Linked DNA regions of Homo sapiens: region 2 is linked to region 1. Evidence: fine-mapped expression QTL. Tissue or cell type: whole blood. Region 1 holds a variant in brackets; the other region holds the start of a gene. All regions are shown on one strand. Distances are from middle to middle.

The links. PIP is the estimated chance that this variant, and not a neighbour inherited with it, causes the effect.
Region 2: it holds the start of GGTA1, and the variant in region 1 is fine-mapped to the expression of GGTA1 in whole blood (TOPMed, PIP above 0.99).

What each region holds. Positions count from the first base shown.
Region 1 is chr9:121,517,849-121,528,423 of GRCh38, reverse strand. It overlaps the pseudogene HMGB1P37. Among named protein-coding and RNA genes, the nearest start is that of GGTA1, 23 kb to the right of the region's middle. The variant T/G (reference allele first, on the strand shown) is at 4,283.
Region 2 is chr9:121,493,801-121,504,375 of GRCh38, reverse strand. It overlaps GGTA1 (glycoprotein alpha-galactosyltransferase 1 (inactive)), which reads left to right and starts at 4,532. Exons shown (of 6, transcript NM_001382585.1): 1 at 4,532-4,726. It also overlaps the pseudogene RN7SL187P. RefSeq lists silencers at 4,483-4,582, 5,932-6,226.

The DNA.
Region 1 (10,575 bases):
CTCTTGAGCCCAGAAATCCAAGGCTGTAGTAAGCTATGATCACGCCATTGCATTCCAGCCTGGGTGACAGAGACCTTGGTCTTTTTTAAACAAAATTATAAATTTTTGAAAAGGAAAATTTAAAAAAAAATTTTTTTTTTTGAGACGGAGTTTCACTCTTGTTGCTCAGGCTGGAGTACAGTGGCACAATCTCGGCTCACTACAACCTCCACCTCCCAGGTTCAAGCGATTCTCCTGCCTCAGCCTCCTGAGTAGCTGGGGTTACAGGTGCCCACCACCATGCCTGGCTAATTTTTTGTATTTTTGGTAGAGACCGGGTTTCACCATGTTGGCCAGGCTGGTCTCAAACTCCTGACCTCAGGTGACCTGCCCGTCTCAGCCTCCCAAAGTGTTAGGATTACAGGCCCCTTGGCATGAACAGACTGGGCGCCATGAATGGCAGCAGGAGGCAGACAGGCTCCTGGGTGGGAGAAGGCAGGTCCCTGGTGAGGCCCCACCTTCAAGCCAGGGAGGGCCTGAAGCCTGGGGGCTGGGCTGCCAGTCCCATGGAAAGGAGTGGGAACTTGTGGTGCTTTTTCTAGGCCCACTCATGGCCGCTCATGGACCAATTGGTGCACACTTCCTTCCCTCCGAGGAAGGGTACGAACCCTCAGCTCCTCCTTGGCCTCCCTCCCCTGCTCATCGGTGTTCAAAGTCTGGAAGGGGCTGAGGTGGCAGGCGGCTTGTGTGTCAGCACTGCACCAAGTGTACCCACACCCGGCCGGGCTGTGACAGCGCCTGGGCTCAGCCCCAACCTCACTCCAAGATCAAGGAGAGGCCAGGCAACGGGAGCAGGAACTTCCAAGCCTGCGGGGGAAGGGGGTGTCTTCCCAGGCCCCCGAGAGTACAGAAATGCCTGGGTCCACAGCCACGGATTGGGCAGCTGCCGCTGCGCCTGGAAGGGTGGGGCTCCTGTCTGCTCCCAGCCCCCAGCCCCCAGCCCCCACTGGCTCCATGGAGTATGCAGCGCCGGCCGCACCTCACCCACTGTAGCCAGTGTCACGACAGCGGTTTCTCTAGACAGGCCACCACTGCCATCACCAGCACTTTGGGAGGCTGAGATGGAGGATCATTTGAGCCTAGGAATTCAAGACCAGCCTGGAATGCATAGCAACATGGCAAGACCCATCTCTACAAAATATTAAAAAATTAGCCAGTGCACACCTGTGGTCCCAGCTGGTACATGCCGGGGCACACCTGTGGTCCCAGCTACTCAGGAGACTGAGGTGGGAAGATGGCTTGAGCCCAGGAGGTGGAGGCTGCAGTGAGCTGAGACTGCATCACTGTACTCCATCCTGGACAACAGAGTAAGATCCTGTCTTGAAAAAAAGTGTTTACTTTTATTATTTTTGTTTTTTTGAGACAGAGTCTCACTCTGTTGCCCAGGTGGAGTGCAGTGGTGCAATCAGTTACCGCAACCTCTGCCTCCCAGGTTCAAGCCATTCTCCTGCCTCCTGAGTAGCTGGGATTACAGGCCGCCACCACATGCCCAGCTAATTTTGGTGTTTTTAGTAGAGATGGGGTTTTACCCTGTTGGTCAGTCTGGTCTCAAACTCCTGGGTTCAAGTGATCTGCCCACCCCGGCCTCCCAAAGTGCTGGGATTACAGGTGTGAGCCACCGTGCCCAGCCAAAAACATTTTTTAATGAAAAAATATTTTAAAAAAGAATTCTTAGCAAACCAAAGACAACAGGAAAAACAACAAGGAGGGACTAGAGGAATTTATTTGAAGCCTGTGGCACCTACAGCTGCAGGAAACATTCCAGACAGCCCGACTCCTCAGTAGATTAACATGAAACCTCACACTAAAAGCCTCATTACCTGGGTTCCTACCACCAGATACTCGATGGCTGGCTTTCTACAACAAATCACAAGGTCTGCTAAAAGGCAAGAAAAAAACACGGCATGAAGAGGCAAAACAGGCATCAGAACCAGACTCAGATATAAAACAGAATAAGGAATTATCAGATAAAAATTTTGAAATAACTCTGATTATATTGGCAAAGACTCACTCCTTTGACCAAAATATTAGTCAAGCTCCTCTGAGTTCTCTGCTTGATTAGGACTTTCTTGGGCTTCCCTTTCTGTCCTTGCAGAATCCAATTGGAGCAGGAATCCTGCTAGGTCTGCTTATTGAAAATCCCTCCTCTTGGCATCTGACTAACCTGGCCAACCTTTATCAAGAGTCCTATCAAAGCCTGGGTGCAGTGGCTCACACCTGTAATCCTAGCACTTTGGGAGGCCAAGGCAGGTGGATCGCTTGAGCTTAGGAGTTCAAGACCAGCCTGGGCAACATGGTGAAACCTTGTCTCTACAAAAAATACAAAAATTAGCTGGGCGTTGGCCAAGGCACAGTGGCTCACTCCTGTAATTGCAGCCCTTTGGGGGGCTGAGGCAGGCAGAATCACCTGAGGTTAGGAGTTCAAGATCAGCCTGGCCAACATGGTGAAACCCCATCTCTACTAAAAATACAAAAAAATTAGCCAGGCATGGTGGTGGGTGCCTGTAATCGCAGCTACTTGGGAGGCTGAGGCAGGAGAATCGCTTGAACCTGGGAGGCGGAGGTTACAGTGAGCCAAGACTGCGCCATTACACTCCAGCCTGGGCGACAAGAACGAAACTCCATCTCAAAACAAACAAACAAAAAATAGCCAGGTGTGGTGGTCCAGATTAGAGGAGACTAAAGAGAAGCAATAACTAACCCAAGGTGTGATTCAGAGAAAATATGATGAGGGTAAATTCAGGGAAAATATGATGAGGGTCTGTGGAAGACAACAGAACTGTATCGACCTTAATTTCCTGATTTAGTCACTAGCCTGCGGTTATTTTTTGGGGGAAATACAGACTGAGGCATCTAGAGGTAAAGGAGCATCAATGTGGGTGAAGGGTGCATGGGAACTCTTTGTATAATTTGTATAATTTTTAGTGTTTCTGCTTGTCAGAAATCATGTCAACAAGAGAGTGAAATATTTAAAGCATTGAAAGAAAAAACCAGCCGGGTACAGTGGCTCACACCTGTAATCCTAACACCTCGGGAGGCCAAGGCAAAAGGATCACTTGAGCCCAGGAGTTCAAGACCAGCCTGGGCAACAAAGTGAGACTCTCATTTCTACCAAAAAAACACGAAAATTATCTGGGCATGGTAGCACGAGCCTGTAGTCCCAGCTAGTCAGGAGGCTGAGGTAGAAGGATCGCTTGAGCCTGGGAAGTGGAGGCTGCAGTGAGCAATGATCATGTCACTGCACTTTAATCTGGATGACAGAGTGAGATGCTGTCTCAAAAAAAGAAAAAACAAAATAAATACATAAATAAAATTGGAAAATGCAGACAGTACAGTTATATAATGAAAACTGTCTCTTCCCCCAACTATCTTTTCCCCACTGTTGATAATTTCTTGTGATTCTTCCCAGAAAAAAAAAAGCTTTATGCACATGTCAGCACGTATATATATTTTTAAATTCTGTATATGCTTTTTTAAAATTTTGCTTGAAATGGGTCCAAACTATACTTCCTATTCTGCATATTGATGTTGCCTGCTAGTAATAAATCTTAGAGAACTTTTTATATTCCTACATTCAGGTCTTTCTCATTCTTTTAAATAGTGCCATTGCATTCCATCCTATGAAAGGATTACACTTTGTTCAATCTGTTGGTTACTACTGACTACTTTTCTTGTTTTCAGTTTTTCACTGTTGCAAATGACACTGCAAAGAACATTCGTATACATTTCTCTCTCCCTAAAACAGTTTTCAGCCTGACACCGTGGCTCATATCTGTAATCCCAGCATTTTGGGAGGCTGAGGAGGGAGGATTTCTTGAGCCCAGGAGTTCAAGACCAGCCTGGGCCACATAGCGAGACCTCATCTCTACAAATAATAAAAAACAATTAGCTGGGCATGGTGATGCATGCCTGTAGTCCCAGCTACTCAGGAGGCTGAGGCAGGAGAATTGCTTGAGCCTGGAAGGTCGGGGCTTCAGTGAGCTGTGATCTTTTTTTTTTTTTTTTTTTTTTTTGAGACAGCCTCACTGTCACCCAGGCTGGAATTCAGTGGCATGATTTTGGTTCACTGAAGCCTCTGCCTTGGGGTTCAAGCAATTCTCCTGCCTCAGCCTCCCAAATAGCTGGGATGACAGGCACCTGCTACCATACCTGGCTAATTTTTATATGTTTAGTAGAGACAGGGTTTCACCATGTTGGCCAGGCTGGTCTACAACTCCTGACCTCAAGTAATTAAAAAAAAAAT[T/G]CTCACTCAGCCAGATGCGGTGGCCCACGCCTGTAATCCCAGCACTTTGGGAGGCCAAGGCGGGTGAATCACTTGAGGTCAGGAGTTCAAGACCAGCCTGGCCAACATGGTGAACCCCGTCTCTACTAAAAATACAAAAATTAGCTGGGTGTGGTGGTGGGCGCCTGTAATCCAAGCTGCTCGGATGGCTGAGGCAGGAGAATCGCTTAAACCCAGGAGGCAGAAGTTACAGTGAGCAGAGATCACGCCACTGCACTCCAGCCTGGGTGAGAGAGAGACTCCATCTCAAAAAAAAAAAAAAATTCTCACTCATAAGTGGAAACTAAACTATGAGGATGCAAAGCTTAAGAATGACACAATAGACTTTGGGGACTCAAGGGGAAAGGGTGGGAAGGAGGTGACAGATAAAAGACTACAAATTGGGTTCAGTGTATACTGCTTGGGTGATGGGTGCACCAAAATCTCATGAATCACCACGAAAGAACTTATTGTGCAACCAAATATCACCTGTTCCCCAAAAACCTATGGAAATAAAAAAAATTTTTTTTAATGTTTTAAATAAAAAAAAGGTTTTCTTTTGAAATGTTCTTTTGTAAATTACCTACAGAAAATTTACAAAAAATGTACACTCGGCCGGGCACAGTGGCTCACGCCTGTAATCCCAGCACTTTGGGAGGCCAAGGCGGGTGGATCATGAGGTCAGAAGTTCAAGACCAGCCTGGCCAATATGGTGACACCCCATCTCTACTAAAAATACAAAAATTAGCCTGGCGTGGTGGTGCACGCCCAGGAGGCTGAGGCAGAAGAATCACTTGAACCACAGAGGTGGAGTTTACCGTGAGCTGAGATTGCACCACTGCACTCCAGCCTGGGCTACACAGTGAGACTCCATCTCAAAAAAAAAAAAAGGTACACTCCTCACCAGCTTGCCTTAATGTTAACATCTTACATAATTGTTGCACAGTGATTAAAACCAGAAAATGGGCTGGGCGTGGTGGCTCATGCCTGTAATCCCAGCACTTTGAGAGGCTGAGGTGGGCAGATCACCTGAGGTTGGGAGTTTGAGACCAGCCTGACCAATATGGAGAAACCCCATCTCTACTAAAAATACAAAAATTAGCGGGATGTGGTGGCACATGCCTGTAATCCCAGCTACTCAGGAGGCTAAGGCAGGTGAATCACTTGAGCCCAGGAGGCAGAGGTTGCAGTGAGCCAAGATCACGCCATTGCACTCCAAACTGGGCAACAAGAGCAAAAGTCCATCTCAAAAAAAAAAATGAACATTGATATAATACAATAGTTACCTACATTTTTCCACTAATATCCTGTTCTAGTCCAAGATCCACTCTGGGATTCCATATTGCATTTAGTTGTTTCATTAATCAGAGTTTTCCAGAGAGATGGAATGAATAGGATGGATAGATAGATAGATAGATAGAGTTTATTAGTCCATTTTCATGCTGCTGCTAAAGACATACCCAAAACTGGGCAATTTACAAAAGAAAGAGGTTTATTGGACTTAGAGTTCCACATGGCTGGAGAGGCCTCACAATTCATGGTGGAAGGCAAGGAGGAGCAAGTCACATTTTAGGTGGATGACAGCAGGCAAAGAGAGAGCTTGTGCAGGGAAACTCCACCTTATAAAGCCATCAGATCTAGGGCTGGGCACCGTGGCTCATGCCTGTAATCCCAGCACTTTGGGAGGCCAAGGCAGGCAGATCACGAGGTCAGGAGTTTGAGACCAGCCTGGCCAACATGGTGAAACACCATCTCTACTAAAAATACAAAAATTAGCCAGGAGTAGTGGCAGGCACCTGTAGTCCCAGCTACTCGGGAGGCTAAGGCAGGAAAATTGCTTGAACCTGGGAGGCGGAGGTTGCAGTGAGCCAGGATAATGCCACTGCACTTCAGCCTGGGTGACAGAGCAAGACTCTGTCTCAAAAAAAAGTTACTGATCCTTGTTTTGTTTTTCAGAGTCAAGGAAACAAGCTATGTACAGCCTTTAATAATTAGGTAAGGTATAGTCTTGTAAACAAAATTTGGAGCATGTTTGTTTCTTTCTGCCTGACTTCTCCAAAATTTGGAAACTATTTGTGAGTACTCTTAACTTATGGCAATATAGTTGTTTGCATCAGTGCAATAAGAATCCATTTCATTTTGCAACAGGACGCAATTGGAGAAATTAGTTGTTTTACTGGCTTTGACTGGAAGGGTATGCTTCCCTTGTAAATCAAGCTTGACTTACAGTGACAATAAAAGCCCCTTGGGAAAACTGGCCTCATACCTTGTCTACACCGTCCCCATACAGGGTTCCTAAGCTGTGGTGAATAGAGATTGTCACTTTCTCACAGGTCTAAGAACCCCATATTTTTGGAACTATAAGAAGAGAGGAATTCACCCAATTCATAGGTATTTCAGGGTACAAACCCATGGCTAGGCGTGGCTTTAAAAACTCCTATCTGAGATTTCTTATGGAACAGAGTTCTATCAAAGCCAATTTTAAAAGCCTATATAAAAACAATTATTCTTGTTGCACTTTATCCAAATAATCAGGCCAAGTATAAAACTAAAGTTTGGCTGGGCATGGTGACTCACGCCTGTAATCCCAGCAGTTTGGGAGGCCAAGGCAGGTGGATCACTTGAGGTCAGGAGTTTGAAACCAGCCTGGCCAACATGGTGAAACTCTATCTCTACTAAAAATACAAAAATTAGCCAGGCGTTATGGCATGCACCTGTAATCCCAGCTACTCGGGAGGCTGAGGCAGGAGAATTGCAGAGCGAGACTCCATCTCAAAAAAAAAACAAAAAAAAACCTAACATTTATTTTGCAAATTTTTTTTTTAATTTTTAAAATTTTAAATTTTAAAAACATGATTTGTTTTTAAAAAAATGAGGACCAGAGAGAGACAAATTATATTTCAAAACTTATACACTTGTCATTAAATTCTAATCTCCTTGGTTGTTTTTAGTTCTTGCCTACATTTTAGACTAACCCTGCTTATTCCTGTAAACCAACTAGCAATGTCAGGCTGCAGCTCAGAAAAAAAAAAGAAATGGGTAATGTAAAAATCTAGATCAGTATTCTAGTTCTGAGCAATTATCCTGCAAATCCTGCCAGGTGATGGGAGTAAATAGAGTTCCCATAACCCAGAGTTTTCTTTGTTTTGGAAAATAGAACCAAAGAAGTTAACCAAAGCCAAACCCCATGCATCCAAATCTTAGCAGGCAGAAATATAGCTACCAGTTATCTGGGCATGTTGGCAGCCTTGGGATTTTTGGCTGTCCTTACCCCCACCCCTTTGCTTTGTTTTAATACATGTCCTCTAATAATCCAAATTGTTTCTTCTTTCCTAAAGGCTATCAAGCTCCAAATAGTGATGCAAATGAAACCACACATGGATGCACCTTTCTTCCAAGGACTCTTAGACTGGCCTCAGTAGGAACCCTACCAGCTGTTCCCCACACAATCCCCCTCTCCAGTAGAAAGTAGCTAGAAGGATCATCTCCCCACTTCCCTAACAGCAGTTATGGTCTTCACTCCTGAGGAGGGGGAATGAGAGAGGAGAAAGGAAGAAACTGGTGAGGCAGGCAGTTAGGGTGGATTCTCAGTTAAATTCTTTCAAACAAAAGAACTGCCCAAAAAACGAAGCTGCACAGCCATTGCAGTACATTCAGCTCCATAGAGACAGTGCCGGGGCAAGTGAGAGCCAGATGGGCTCTCACTTGCATTTTTTTGTGCAAACTTGTCTGGAGAAGCATAAGAGAAGCACCCAGATGCTTCAGTCAACTTCTCAGAGTTTTCTAAGAAGTGCTCAGAGAGGTGGAAGACCATGCCTGCTAAACAGAAAGGAAAATTTGAAGATATGGCAAAGGTGGACAACGCCCATTACGAAAGAGAAATGAAAACCTACATCCCTCCTAAAGGGGAGATAAAAAAAGAGGTTCAAGTATCCCAATGCACCCAAGAGGCTTCCTTTGACCCTTTTCCTGTTCTGCTCTGAGTATCGCCCAAAAATCAAAGGAGAACATCCTGGCCTGTCCATTGGTGATGTTGCAAAGAAACTGGAAGAGATGTGGAATGACATTGCTGCAGATGGCAAGCAGCCTTCTGAAAAGAAGGCTGCAAAGCTGAAGGAAAAATATGAAAAGGATATTGCTGCATATCAAGCTAAAGGAAAGCCTGATGCAGCAAAAAAGGGAGTTGTCAAGGCTGAAAAAAGCAAGAAAAAGAAGGAAGAGGAGGAAGATGAGGAAGACGAAGAGGATGAGGAGGAGGAGGAAGATGAAGAAGATGAAGATGAAGAACAAGGTGATGATGATGAATAAGTTGGTTCTAGCGCAGTTTCTTTTCTTGTCTATAAAGCATTTAACCCCCCTGTACACAACTCACTCCTTTTAAAGAAAAAAATTGAAATGCAAGGCTTTGTAAGATTTGTTTTTAAACTGTATAGTGTCTTTTTTTGTATGGTTAACACACTACCAAATGTGTCTTTAGATAGCCCTGTCCTGGTGGTATTTTCAATAGACACTAACCTTGCCTGGTACACTATGGGGGTTGTAAATTGGCATGGAAATTTAAAGCAGGTTCTTGTTGGTGCACAGCACAATTTAGTTATATATGGGGATGGTAGTTTTTTCATCTTCAGTTGTCTCTGATGCAGCTTATACAAAATAATTGTTCTGTTAACAGAATACCACTCTGTAATTGCAAAAAAAAAAAAAAGCTGCAGCTGTTTTGTTGACATTCTGAATGCTTCTAAGTAAATACATTTTTTTAATACAAAAAAAGAAAAGAAAAATCAAGCTGCAGACACAGACAAGAGAACTTGCATGGGGGCTTGCCTAAGACATGCCCACAGATGCACAGATAAGAAAGCCTACACAGGTAACTTGCCTAGACATACCTGCAATGGAAAATTCCATCCCCTGACACAGGCGCAGTAAGGGAAACAAAGCAATATGGAGTAAATCAAGTTAAAGGCCCACATGCACATTAGGAGCATGGGGTGGAGCTAGTAGAAATTCGCACCTTATGCAAATGAGATGTCCAGCCCTCATCAGTTTCCTATAGAAGCCTTTGCATTCAACTGTAAAAATGGCAACCCTCTTTTAGGCCCCCTCTCCACAGCAGAGAGTTTTCTTCTTTTGCTTATTAAACTTTCATTCCAATCTCACCCTTGGTGTACACACATCTTAATTTTCATGGTCACGAGACAAAGAACTCCAGATGATACCTTGAACAATGAGAGACTGCTACATTATGGTGCATTGGTGAGACTGTAACACTAGCTTGGGGAAAACAATACTGTATAAATATCAGATGCTGATTCAGTGCTTAGGCAGCCTTCTCAAGACCCTTGTCCCAGCCCTATTGTCATCTAGCTGGCACTGTAACTGAGTCTACAAAAAACCACGCCACCATTCTGTCAAGCCAGATGCTTCAGGATGATGGGAAACATGGTAAGACCAGTGAATAATGTCATGAGCATGGGCTCATTGCTGCACTTTTCTGGCTGTGAAGTGTGTTCCCTCATCAGAAACAGGCTGGATATGGTGGGTCATGCCTGTAATCCCAACACTTTAGGAGGCTGAGGCAGGAGGATTGTATGGGGCCAAGAGTTCAAGGCTGTAGTAAGCCATGATCATGCCATTGCACTCCAGCTGGGCAACAGAGTGAGACCCTGTCTCAAAAAAAGAAGAAGCAATTCTATGTGGAATATTATGATTGATGATGGATAAGGCATTCCATAAGTCCAAATTCATATCCAGAGTGTCTGGTCCAGTAAGGACAGAATGCTGCCCCTTCCATGATGGGAGAGGACCAATGTAATCAACTGCCATCAGGTAGCTGGCTGATCACCCTGGGGAGTTGTGCCATTGCAGGGACTCAGTGTTGGTCTCTGCTGCTGGCAGATTGGACACTCAGAGGTGGCAGTAGCCAGGTCAATTCTGATGAGTGAGAGTTCAAGCTGCCGAACCCATGGATAACCTCCATCAGTGCCACCATGACCACTTTGTTCATGAGCCCACTGGGCAATGACAGGGATGGCTGGGGAAAGAGGTCGACTGATATCCACAGAATGGGCCATCCTATCCTCTTGAATATTAAAACTCCTCCTTGCTGAGGTCACCCTTTGGTGTGACCTCACATGGGGTACAAATATCTTCACACCTTTCCCCACTCAGAGAGGTCCGTCCACATAACTCTTCCTCAAATTTCTTTGTCACTGATGTTCCAACCATGTTTCTTCCAAGTTCCTGACCATCTGCCAAACCATTGGCTCCAGCTCATG
Region 2 (10,575 bases), 24 kb after region 1:
GTAAAAAGGTTTACAGGTCAGGTGTGGTGGCTCATGCCTGTAATCCCAGCACTTTGGGAGGCCGAGGCAGGCGGATCACAAGGTCAGGAGTTCGAGACCAGCCTGGCCAACATGGTGAAACCCTGTCTCTACTAAAAATACAAAAATTAGCCAGGCATGGTAGTACCTGTTGTCCCATCTACTCAGGAGGATAAGGCAGGAGAATCACTTGAACCCGGGAGGCAGAGGTTGCAGTGAGCTGAGATTGCTCCACTGCACTCCAGCCTGGAAGGCAGAGTAAGACTCCGTCTCAAGAAAAAAAAAAAAAAGGAAAAAATATAAAATGCAAACCCCTGGTCTTCCCCTTCCAAGCCTCCCTGCTGTGACTCCTCAGCTGGCCTCTCTGGCCCAATGTCCTCCTGCAGGGATCTCACGGTCCTTCTCCCGTGCCAGGGCACACATACTTTTCCCTGCCCCGCACCCCTTCCAAATGCTGTCTGTTCATTCCACTTCCTCCAAGACTCTACTCTCACGTTCCCTTCTGCTTCTCCGGACCAACCTTACCACTCCTGGGAATTTCTTTAAAACACCTCCCCCCAGGCCCCCAAGACCTAGGAGTTTCCCCACCTGCGTGGGGCTGAGAAGCAAGTGAGAGAGCTATGGGAACAAAACCTAGCTCTGCAAATGCCAAGCTTGTGATTGTGAGGAAGTCACTGCCATCTGGATCTCGTTTCCTCATCTATAAATTGAGGGCTGGGACTGGCCATCTCTCAGGGTTCCTGGGCTGTGTGTTTTTCTAGTTCTGTGGAAGTTTTGCACTTCCTTTATCTGGTATTTCTGTGAAAAAGGCTCATCAGACTTTGGGGAAATCGATCCTCCCCCTGCCTCCCAGCTCACTGTTACTGACATTTCTCTTCCCCACCAAGATCTCAAGGAGGGCATTTTCCCTGCCAAGAACATTCTGGAAGTGCATTCCAAACCCTGCCTGCCAGAGGCCACCTCACCTTGGTGTTTCTGACATGGAGAATCTGAGGAAGAAAGGGGAGGACAGAGGGAGGACAGGGTGAGAGAGGATGGGAAGAGGAAATGCAAGAAATGCAAGAGGTGGTTATCCAAGTCACTGGGGAGGGCCTACCAGTAGTAGGCTCCAGGTGGGCTTAACAGAAGTGTTAGGCCAGGCGTGGTGGCTCAAGCCTGTAATCACAGCACTGTGGGAGGTCAAGGTGGACAGATCACCTGAGGTCAGGAGTTTGAGACCAGCCTGGCCAACATGGCGAAACCCCGTCTCTACTAAAAATGCAAAAATTAGCCAGGCATGGTGGCATACAACTATAATCCCAGCTACTCAGGAGGCTGGGGCAGGAGAATCACTTGAACCCGGGAAGTGGAGGTTACAGTGAGCTGAGATCGAGCCAGTGCTCTCCAGCCTGGGCAACAAGAGCGAAACTCCATATCAAAAAAAAAGGAAGTGTTACCGGTGGAGGGTGTGTAGGTTCTTGGCATTCTGAGCAAAGAATTGGACAAAAATGCAGAAACAAAGCAAGGAAAAAATGAAGCAACAAAAGCAGAGATGTAATGAAAATGAAAGGCGGAGGTTGCAGTGAGCCAAGATCATGCCACTGCACTCCAGCCTGGGCCATAGAGCGAGACTCTGTCCCAAAGGAAAAAAAAAAAAAAAGACAACCTCAGAACTGAAATGTGATCCTGGGAAGGCTACCAAACATGTAAAAGGTTTACAAAAATTTGCATTGTCATGAATTATTATAATCTTTTATAAGTCATTCAACCAGTTTGCAGAGAGAGAGAGAGGGGCCAGAAGTCCAACTGGTAGGAAATTCTTACCCTAGGCCAGCGCGGTGGCTCACACTTGTAATCCCAGCACTTTGGGAGGCCGAGGTGGGTGGATCACGAGGTCAGGAGTTCAAGACCAGCCTGGCCAAGATGGTGAAACCCACCTCTACTAAAAACTACAAAAAGTAGCCGGGTGTGGTGGCAGGTACCTGTAATCTCAGCTACTCCGGAGGCTGAGGCAGGAGAATCACTTGAACCTAGGCGGCAGAGGTTGCAGTGAGCCGAGATCACACCATTGCACTCCAGCCTGGGTGACAGGGCGAGACTCCATCTCAAAAAAAAAAAAAAAAGAAAGAAATTCTTACCCTATTGTTGGCATGTTAGGTTTCTGGGTTCTTTCTCCTTGAGCGGCCCAAATGATGCTGCTCGACTGTATGCAAACAAACACATTGCCATGAATTAAGAATATTCCAGTGGCTCATGCCTGTAATCCCAGCACTTTGGGAGGCTGAGGCAGGCAGATCACGAGGTCAGGAGATTGAGACCATCCTGGCTAACACGGTGAAACCCTGTCTCTACTAAAAATAAAAGAATTAACTGGGCATGGTGGCATGTGCCTGTAGTCCCAGCTACTCAGGAGGCTGAGGCAGGAGAATCCCTTGAACCCAGTAGGTGGAGGTCAGGCTGGTCTTGAACTCCTGACTTCAAGTGATCCGCCCACCTCGGCTTCCCAAAGTGCTGGGATTACAGGCGTGAGCCACTGTGCCCGGCCTAACCATGTTTTTAATAGCCAGTGAGCATCAGGTGCTCACCTAAACATAAGGAAGGATATCAAAGTTAAATACATAGCTATTTTTGCCAACAACTCAGAAGATTTAGCTAATAGTATTAAATTAACTCTCATTTGTCAAAAAAAAAAAAAAAGCACGCAAACCAAGATCATTTTGTTTTGGCTGGGTTTATAGTTTTATAACCTTCTATGCCAAACTCTGACACCTCAAAGTATTTAGCAGAGACAAATATAAAGTCCAGACAAAAATGTATGCTGACAATTCTGAAAGCATTTCTATTTTACCAATAATTTTAAAACCAGCCTGTTTATTAAAGTTATACTTAAGTCATATGAACTTGAAAATTGCTTAGACTTATTTAGTTAATTTATGAGCACTCTTTTATTTATATGCCAATTTGGTAGGCACAAGATATAACAGTAAGTGTACCTACAAATAAACACATCTAGACATGTATATACCGACACAAACAAAGATCCAATAGCTTGGAACTGTAGCCATGAGATAGCAATACAAGCTCGCTGGTTTTACTTTGTTTGCCCCAATAGATAATCCAATGAAGGCTGTGAACTAAAATTTTGGGTAAAGTAGTTTTCATGGCAGTTTGATTTTTTTGTTTGTTTGTTTGTCTATTCATTTAAGACTGAGTTTCGCTCTGTCACCCAGGCTGCAGTGCAGTGGCGCAATCTCGGCTCACTTCAACCTCCACCTCCTGGGTTCAAGTGATTCTCCTGCCTCAGGCTCCCAAGTAGCTGGGATTATAGGCGTGTGCCACCATGCCCAGCTAATTTTTTGTATTTTTAGTAGAGACAGGGTTTTACCATGTTGGCCAGGCTACTCTCGAACTCCCGACCTCAGGTAATCCACCCATCTTGGCCTCCCAAACTGCTGGGATTACAAGCTAGAACCACCTCGCCTGGCCTGGCAGTTTGATTTTTATTTGTATTTATTTTTTATTTTTTCTTTTCTTTCTCAGTCTCCAGCCTCCCGAGTAGCTGGGATTACAGGTGCACGCCACCAGGCCTGGGGAATTTTTCTATATTCTGTAGAGACGGGGTTTCGCCACGTTGCCCAAGCTGGTCTGGAAATCCTGAGCTCAAGCAATCCGCCCACCTCGGCCTCCCAAAGTGCTGGGATTACAGGCGTGAGCCACCGCGCCCGGCCGAATTATTTAAGAAGCGAATTTCTTAGTCTATGAAAATGACGTTCAACGGCAAATGGCAAAATGAAGTTCTGACTTTTCCACCTGTAAAGTAGATTGATATGAGCGGGAGTGAGAAGACCTTGTCGCTATCAGTATAAGACAAGAGAACTGAGGGCAGCCAGTTGTGGCCACAGCAACTCTCTGAGTGAATTGCTGCCACACTGGGCACAGAAGCGCACACTCTGAAATCGAATGTTTGGATTCCTTTCTACATAATTCTACTAAAGAGTTATTCCACAGCCTAGGGGCTGCCTTAGAGCCCCGTTTGAGACACTCTGGGCTCACAGATCATGAAGTCAGTGCGCAAACGCGGGCAGACCCTGAACCAGGTGCCCAACGCCCAGCCCTCACTTCCAGAGCTCAGGACTCTCGCAAGAGCGACTCCAGCCCCGGCCTGCCGCTGTCTACATTCGCGCTCTTCCTTCCTCGGGAAACAAACGGTGGATCAGATCTCCAAGGCTCTGAGTTTCCCAGAGTTTGGCCGTGCGCCAGCGCAGCGCAGCCCCTCCCAGCAGCACAGCACAGACCCCACCCCATCCTCCAACGCCCGGGGTTCCTGCTCTATCACCTACACCACCACCACCACGTGCAGGCCCGAGAAGGCAAAAGAGGCCCAGCCACTCTCACCGGGGATTTTATCCGCCTCCCCGGCACACACACACTCTCACTCACGCACTCGCTCGCCGGCCTTCCAGCTGTCTGTGTCCGGGGCGGGGACCGGCTTGGCGCAGCCCGCTGTCAGCGCTCGCCGGCTCCTCGCGCCCCTACCCGCTGCGCTCTGCCCAGAGCAGAAGCCCGGCCGGCCGGCCCACGGGCGGGAGGACGCGCCTCCGCTCGGGCGGAGGCGGCGCGGTGGCTGATCAGAGCGCGTAGGGCTTCGCCGGGGCCGGGAGCTGGGCGCGGTCCTGCTCAGCCCAGCTCACCGCGCGCCGGCCCTCGGCGCCCTGGTTCTGCGGATCAGGTGGGTCCCGCGGGGAGCCGCCCAGGTCCCCGGAGGCCACGAGCAGGACACGGACGGGGGGCTCCGCGCTTGGGAGAGGGTGGTGAGGGAGTGGAGGCGGGCCGCTGCTCCGGCGCTGCCCGGTGTCTGCCCTGCCTGTGTCCCTGCTTTTGTTCTTGTCGCTACCTCGGTGCCAAATCGGACCCAGTTTCTGTCCCTCTGTCCCCATCCTGTGGCCGTCCCTCCCTCTGTCCAGCCTTCCAAGACTGGAGCCTGAAGAGCTGCAAGCTGAGGTTCCCCCACGGGTCCGCGGGGTTGGGGTGGGGGAAGAGAGGGGAGACGCAGGGGACACAGGATGCGACCAAGTAAGTCGCAGTGAGTGAGGGGTCTGTCCTTGCCTGTGGGGCAGGACAGAGGAATGGCTCTTGCCCAGGACAAGATAGGAAGGGCGCGCCTCTGGGAAGGGGAATCTGGGAGTGGGGGGATAAAGTGAGGGTCGCAGGAACCCCAAGGAGGAAGGGAATAGAGAGGGAGATGTCAGAGAGCTTCGGAGAGCCGAGGACTCAGTCAGACGCCCAGCATGGGGAAAGTTTCCGACACTAACTTTGGCATCCGGGGTGCCTGCAGCACTGGGGCGATGGGAGGCGGGAGTTTCCTCCAACTCTTCAAACCTTGCTCCTACTCGAAAAGGACACCACCCCGCGTTTGGAAATGGCAGGAAAACGGCTAAACACAATGATTGCACAAACTCTTGAAGAAAGTAAAAAAAAAAAAAACAGTAAAAAGAAGAAGAAAAAAATGTCAGCGCGCAAAGAGCCAGAGAAGCAGAGGGATTTGAGATTCCTCGATCTTCCCGCTGTGGCGGCCGGGAGGGACTGGGAGGCGCGGAGGGTGTGAGAGCCGCTCCTCCGGCAGGAAGGAACCGAGACCCGAGGCAGGTGTTTTGAGGCTTTGCTCTTCCTTTGCACTCCTTCGGGCTCCTGAGCAGGCCGGGCTGCCTCCTTCCTTTACCTGGAAACAGGCGTGTCTGAGGAAGCAGGAGATGTAGGGTGCAGCCCTGGCCTGCCGCTTGCTGCCAGTAAGGAACCACCTTCCCAGACAGAGCCTCAGTTTCCCCGATTGTGAAATAAGGATACTACTGGAGACCTTCCTTCCAGTCTCTGAGTAAGGAAATGCAAGTGCATGGCGAAGGAGGGCTCTGGGAGTGGGGGGTGTGGAGGACAGGGTTATTCTGCTGCATTTCTGTGCTTCTTTGACTACATCAGGCACTTTCTACCTCTTTCGGAGTTACATCTGGGTGAATTTTGCCTCCTCTACCAGATGGGGGCAGCATGTGGATCTAAGTTATCTCATTTACATGTAACAGGTGCTCAATGACTGAATAAGGCAGAGCTGAACGAGTCCCTAGGGATTGCCCAGTCCAGAAGTTTCAACTCTGTCCTGTAAGGCCCGGCATCCTGCCTCAAGGGCCACCATGGTAGGGGAGGGGAACCTAGAGGACAGGGCTCTGGCCCCTTCCCTATCTTATTTCAGACAGAACCAGTTCTGTTCTTCCTTTATCTCCTCTATGTATTGGGAAACTCCTGAGAACGTTTTTGATGTCAGATTGCTCAGATCCAACCTGATCCAGTTTTTGGTGGAGTAGCTGAGGTCCAGAAGTGTGCAACGTGATTTGGGCAAACTTCTCTAGTGGCCACACCTTACCAGGAGACCTGTCCCCTAAATCATAGGCTAGGAGCTGCCTTTGTCTGGCCATGGTGGCTCTGAGCAGCCATTTCCCCAGCTCTTACCACCAGCTCTCCTACACTCCAACTCCAGGGCCACAGGGCTGCCTTCTGGCCCTTCTGGGAGAAGAAGCCTGTGAATCTCATCCTCTGAGCACTTCCAGACCTTTAGTGGGACCATTTATGTGAGTTGGTCTCACAGGTTGAGGTAAAAAATAATGAGGTTCCCTGGCCCAACTGAGTAGACTAGGTACCTGCCTGTGTCCCTGCTTTTGTTCTTGTTGCTACTTCTATGTCAGAACGGACTCAGTCTCTGTCCCCATTCTGCGCCCGTCCCTGCCTTCGTCCAGCCTTCTAAGACTGGAGCCTGAGGGGCTGTGGGCTGAGCAGCCCCTCAGGCTAACCCATTTTCTAGTTGAGGAAAGGAAGGCTGAGAGAGACCAAGAAACATATGGGCACTCAGCAACTAAATGGCAGCTAGGATTTGAATGCAGTTCTGGCTCTAAGGTTGGTGCTTTTTCCATTACATCACCTCTCATGATGGCTAAAAAATGGCTAATGGACAAATGTCATGGAGACGGGGCAGAGGTGAGGGGAGAACAACCGAAGGAGGGGGCAGCTTTCAGTAGGGGACTGGACATTAATAGAGGTATAAACTCATAAATATAATTTTATCTGAAATGAATGTACTCTTTGCCCTGTACTTTCCTTTTATTTTAGGTTGGATATGTAAAACTTATTTTCTTTCTTTTTTTTGAGACAGTCTCCCTCTGTTGCCCAGGCTGGAGTGCAGTGATGCTATCTTGACTCACTGCAACCTCCACCTCCCAGATTAAAGCAATCCTCCCACCTCAGCCTCCCAAGTAGCTAGGATTACAGGCGTGCACCACCATACCCAGCTAATTTTTTAATTTTTAGTAGAGACAGGGTTTCACCCTGTTGGCCAGGCTGGTCTCGAACTCCTGACCTCAGGTGATCCACCCACCTCCGCCTCCCAAAGTGGTAGGATTACAGGTGTGAGCCACCATGCCCAGTTGTAAAACCTACAAATCTTACGTGTTTGATTTGACAACTCTTTTTTTTGTTTGTTTGAGACAGAGTCTCATTCTGTCTCCCAAGCTGGAATGGTGGGATCTTGAATCACTGCAATCTCTGCCCCCTAGGTTCATTCAAGCGATTCTCTCTCTCTTTTTTTTTTTTTTTTTTTTTTTTTTTGAGATGGAGCCTTGCTCTGTCACTCAGGCTGGAGTGCAGTGGCATGATCTTGGCTCACTGCAACCTTTGCCTCCCGGGTTCAAGCGATTCTCCTGCCTCAGCCTCCTGAGTAGCTGGGATTACAGGCACCTGCCACCACACTGGCTAATTTTCTTTTGTATTTTTAGTAGAGTTGGGGTTTCACCATGTTGGCCAGGCTGGTCTCAAACTCCTGACCTTGTGATCTGACCACCTCAGCCTCCCAAAATGATGGGATTGCAGGTGTGAGCCACCACGCCCGGCCTACCTTCTATTTTTTACGATTGAATTTTAAGAGTTTTTGGAGAAAATAACATGAGTCAGGGCAGAATAGGGATATGGTGATATGGAGATGGTGATATGGAGACCATTATGGGCCAGGGCTTGGGAAGGAAAGAACCAAATGGTGGTTGGAATAATGACCTCAGGAATAGGGATTTCTGGGCACTAATATGTTATGTGAAAAATAAATAGACTTTTGTGGCCAAAAGCTAAGATTTGGGGGTTGTTTGTTATGCAGCATGGCTGCAGCAAAAGCTAACTGATACACATTATATAGATGCAATAAGTGCAGATTGTGATGAAACTTTCATGCCATGATAAGGAGTTGTGAGCAATGGGGAATCAACAGAGAAGTAAGGAAAATCACATAACAGGTTAGTCTCTATGGGTCAACTGGGATTTAAAGACCTGGTACTTGTACTCTGTGGGCCAGGCAAATTCATCCATGTTCATGGCTTTAAATGCTACTTCTGTAGCATTCATCTTATCTCAAACTTTGGGCATCTAATTCACATGTTTAACTGCCCAATGGGCATCTTTGTTTTGAATGTCTCAAAGGCACTGCAAACTCAACAAGTCCAAGCTAGAATTATCTTATGGTGGCTTTCCATCACGGGTCACTGTATGAATGATGGTGCCACTAGCTGAGAGAGTAAGGGAGAATGAATGTTTGGGAAGGGGAGAGATAATGAGTTTAGTTCCATGCTAAATGGTTCAGAGCAGTCCAGGAAGATAAGGATTAGAAGTTGCATTGGGTAATTAGGAGATTACTGGAACATACTGAGAGCAGTTTTGATGGAGTGGAGGGTAGGCAAGCTAGATTGCTGATAGGTAAGGAGGACATAATGAAAACAATGAGGATAGTCAGCTCTTTCTCTTTTTTTGAGATGGAGTTTTGCTCTTGTTGCCCAGGCTGGAGTGCAGTGGCATGATCTCAGCTCACTGCAACCTCCGCCTCCCGGGTTCAAGTGATTCTCCTGCCTCAGGTTCCCAAGTAGCTGGGATTACAGGCATCCACCACCACGCCCAGCTAGTTTTTTGTATTTTTAGTAGAGATGGGATTTCACCGTGTTGTCCAGGCTGGTCTCGAACTCCTGACCTCAAGTGATCCACCTGCCTCAGCCTCCCAAAGTGCTGGGTTTACAGGCATGAGCCACCATGCCTGGCCCAGGATAGTCAACTCTTTCCAGAAGTTTATTTGAGGTCAGGAGAGGCCAGGTGTGGTGGCTCACACCTGTAATCCCAGAACTTGGGGAGGCCAAGGTGGGCAGATCACCTGAGGTCGGGAGTTCGAGACCAGCTTGGCCAACAAAGTGAAACCCCATCTCTACTAAAAATACAAAAATTAGTTGGGTGTGGTAATCCTGTAATCCCAGCTACTTGGGAGGCTGAGGCATGAGAATTGCTTGAACCCGGGAGGTGGAGATTGCAGTGAGCTGAGATGGCACCACTGCACTCCAGCCTGAGTGACAGAGCAAGGCTCTGTCTCAAAAAAAAAAAAAAAAAAAAGAATGATGTAGATTTGGTCCATGCGCTGAAGGCAAAGGGGTCATCACGTAGTATGCTCAACCCAGGTTTCTTTCTTTTCTTTCTTTCTTCCTTTATTTGTAAAAGATGAGGTCTTGCTTTGTTGCCCAGGCTGGGGTACAGTGGCTATTCACAGATGTGATCTCATTACCAATCAGCACGGGAGTTTTATCCTGCTCCATTTCCAACCTAAGTCAGTTTACCCCTCCTTAGGCAACCTGGTGGTTCCCCACTCCCAGGAGATCACCATATTGATGCCAAACTTAGTGCAGACACCTGATCTATCTGCATAGTACACTGCAGCCCAGAACTCCTGGGCTCAAGTGATCCTCCCACCTCAGCCCCCTGAGTAGCTGGGATGGTAGGTGTGAGCCACCATGCCTGGCAACCCAGAATTACTTCTAAAAGTCCTTTCAGTTCTAAAAAGAAGAAGTGAATATCTGCTGTCTAAATCTCCAGCCAAAGAGCTGATTGGCTCAGCTTGTCCAAATGTGGCGAGGAGACCACAGACCTCTGTCACGTGCAATCAGACCCGGCCATGAGAGTTTCCAAGGCTTGGGCTTTAGCAGCCATTATGCCAGTTTTCATTGCCAAACAGAGTCTCAGGAGGCAGAGGCAGTGATGGCAGTGGGGTGGAGACCCATTGCCTTCTGTTCAAATTTTGTGCCACAGGGCAACCCCACACAGACATCCACAAGAGACTTTGGGGGTGTGCACGTGCTTCCTGGGGTTCCTCTCTGAAACCCTGTGTGGCTGACAGATATGAATGGCAGGGAAAAGCATGGGTCTAACTCAGAGAGTGAGTGGTCTGAGATGGAGGAGGAGATTCCAGAGAGAGTGAGCCTAGCGGCTGGGTGCGGTGGTTCACGACTGTAATCCCAGGATGCTGGGAGGCCAAGGCGGGCAGATCACCTGAGGTCAGGAGTTCGAGACCAGCCTAGTCAACATGGCAAAACCCCGTCTCTACTGAAAATACAAAAATTAGCTGGGCGTGGTTGTGCGTGCCTGTAATCTCAGCTACTTGGGAGGCTGAGGCAGAAGAATCACTTGAACTCGGGAGGTGGAGGTTGCAGTGAGCTAAGATTGTGCCACTGCACTCCAGCC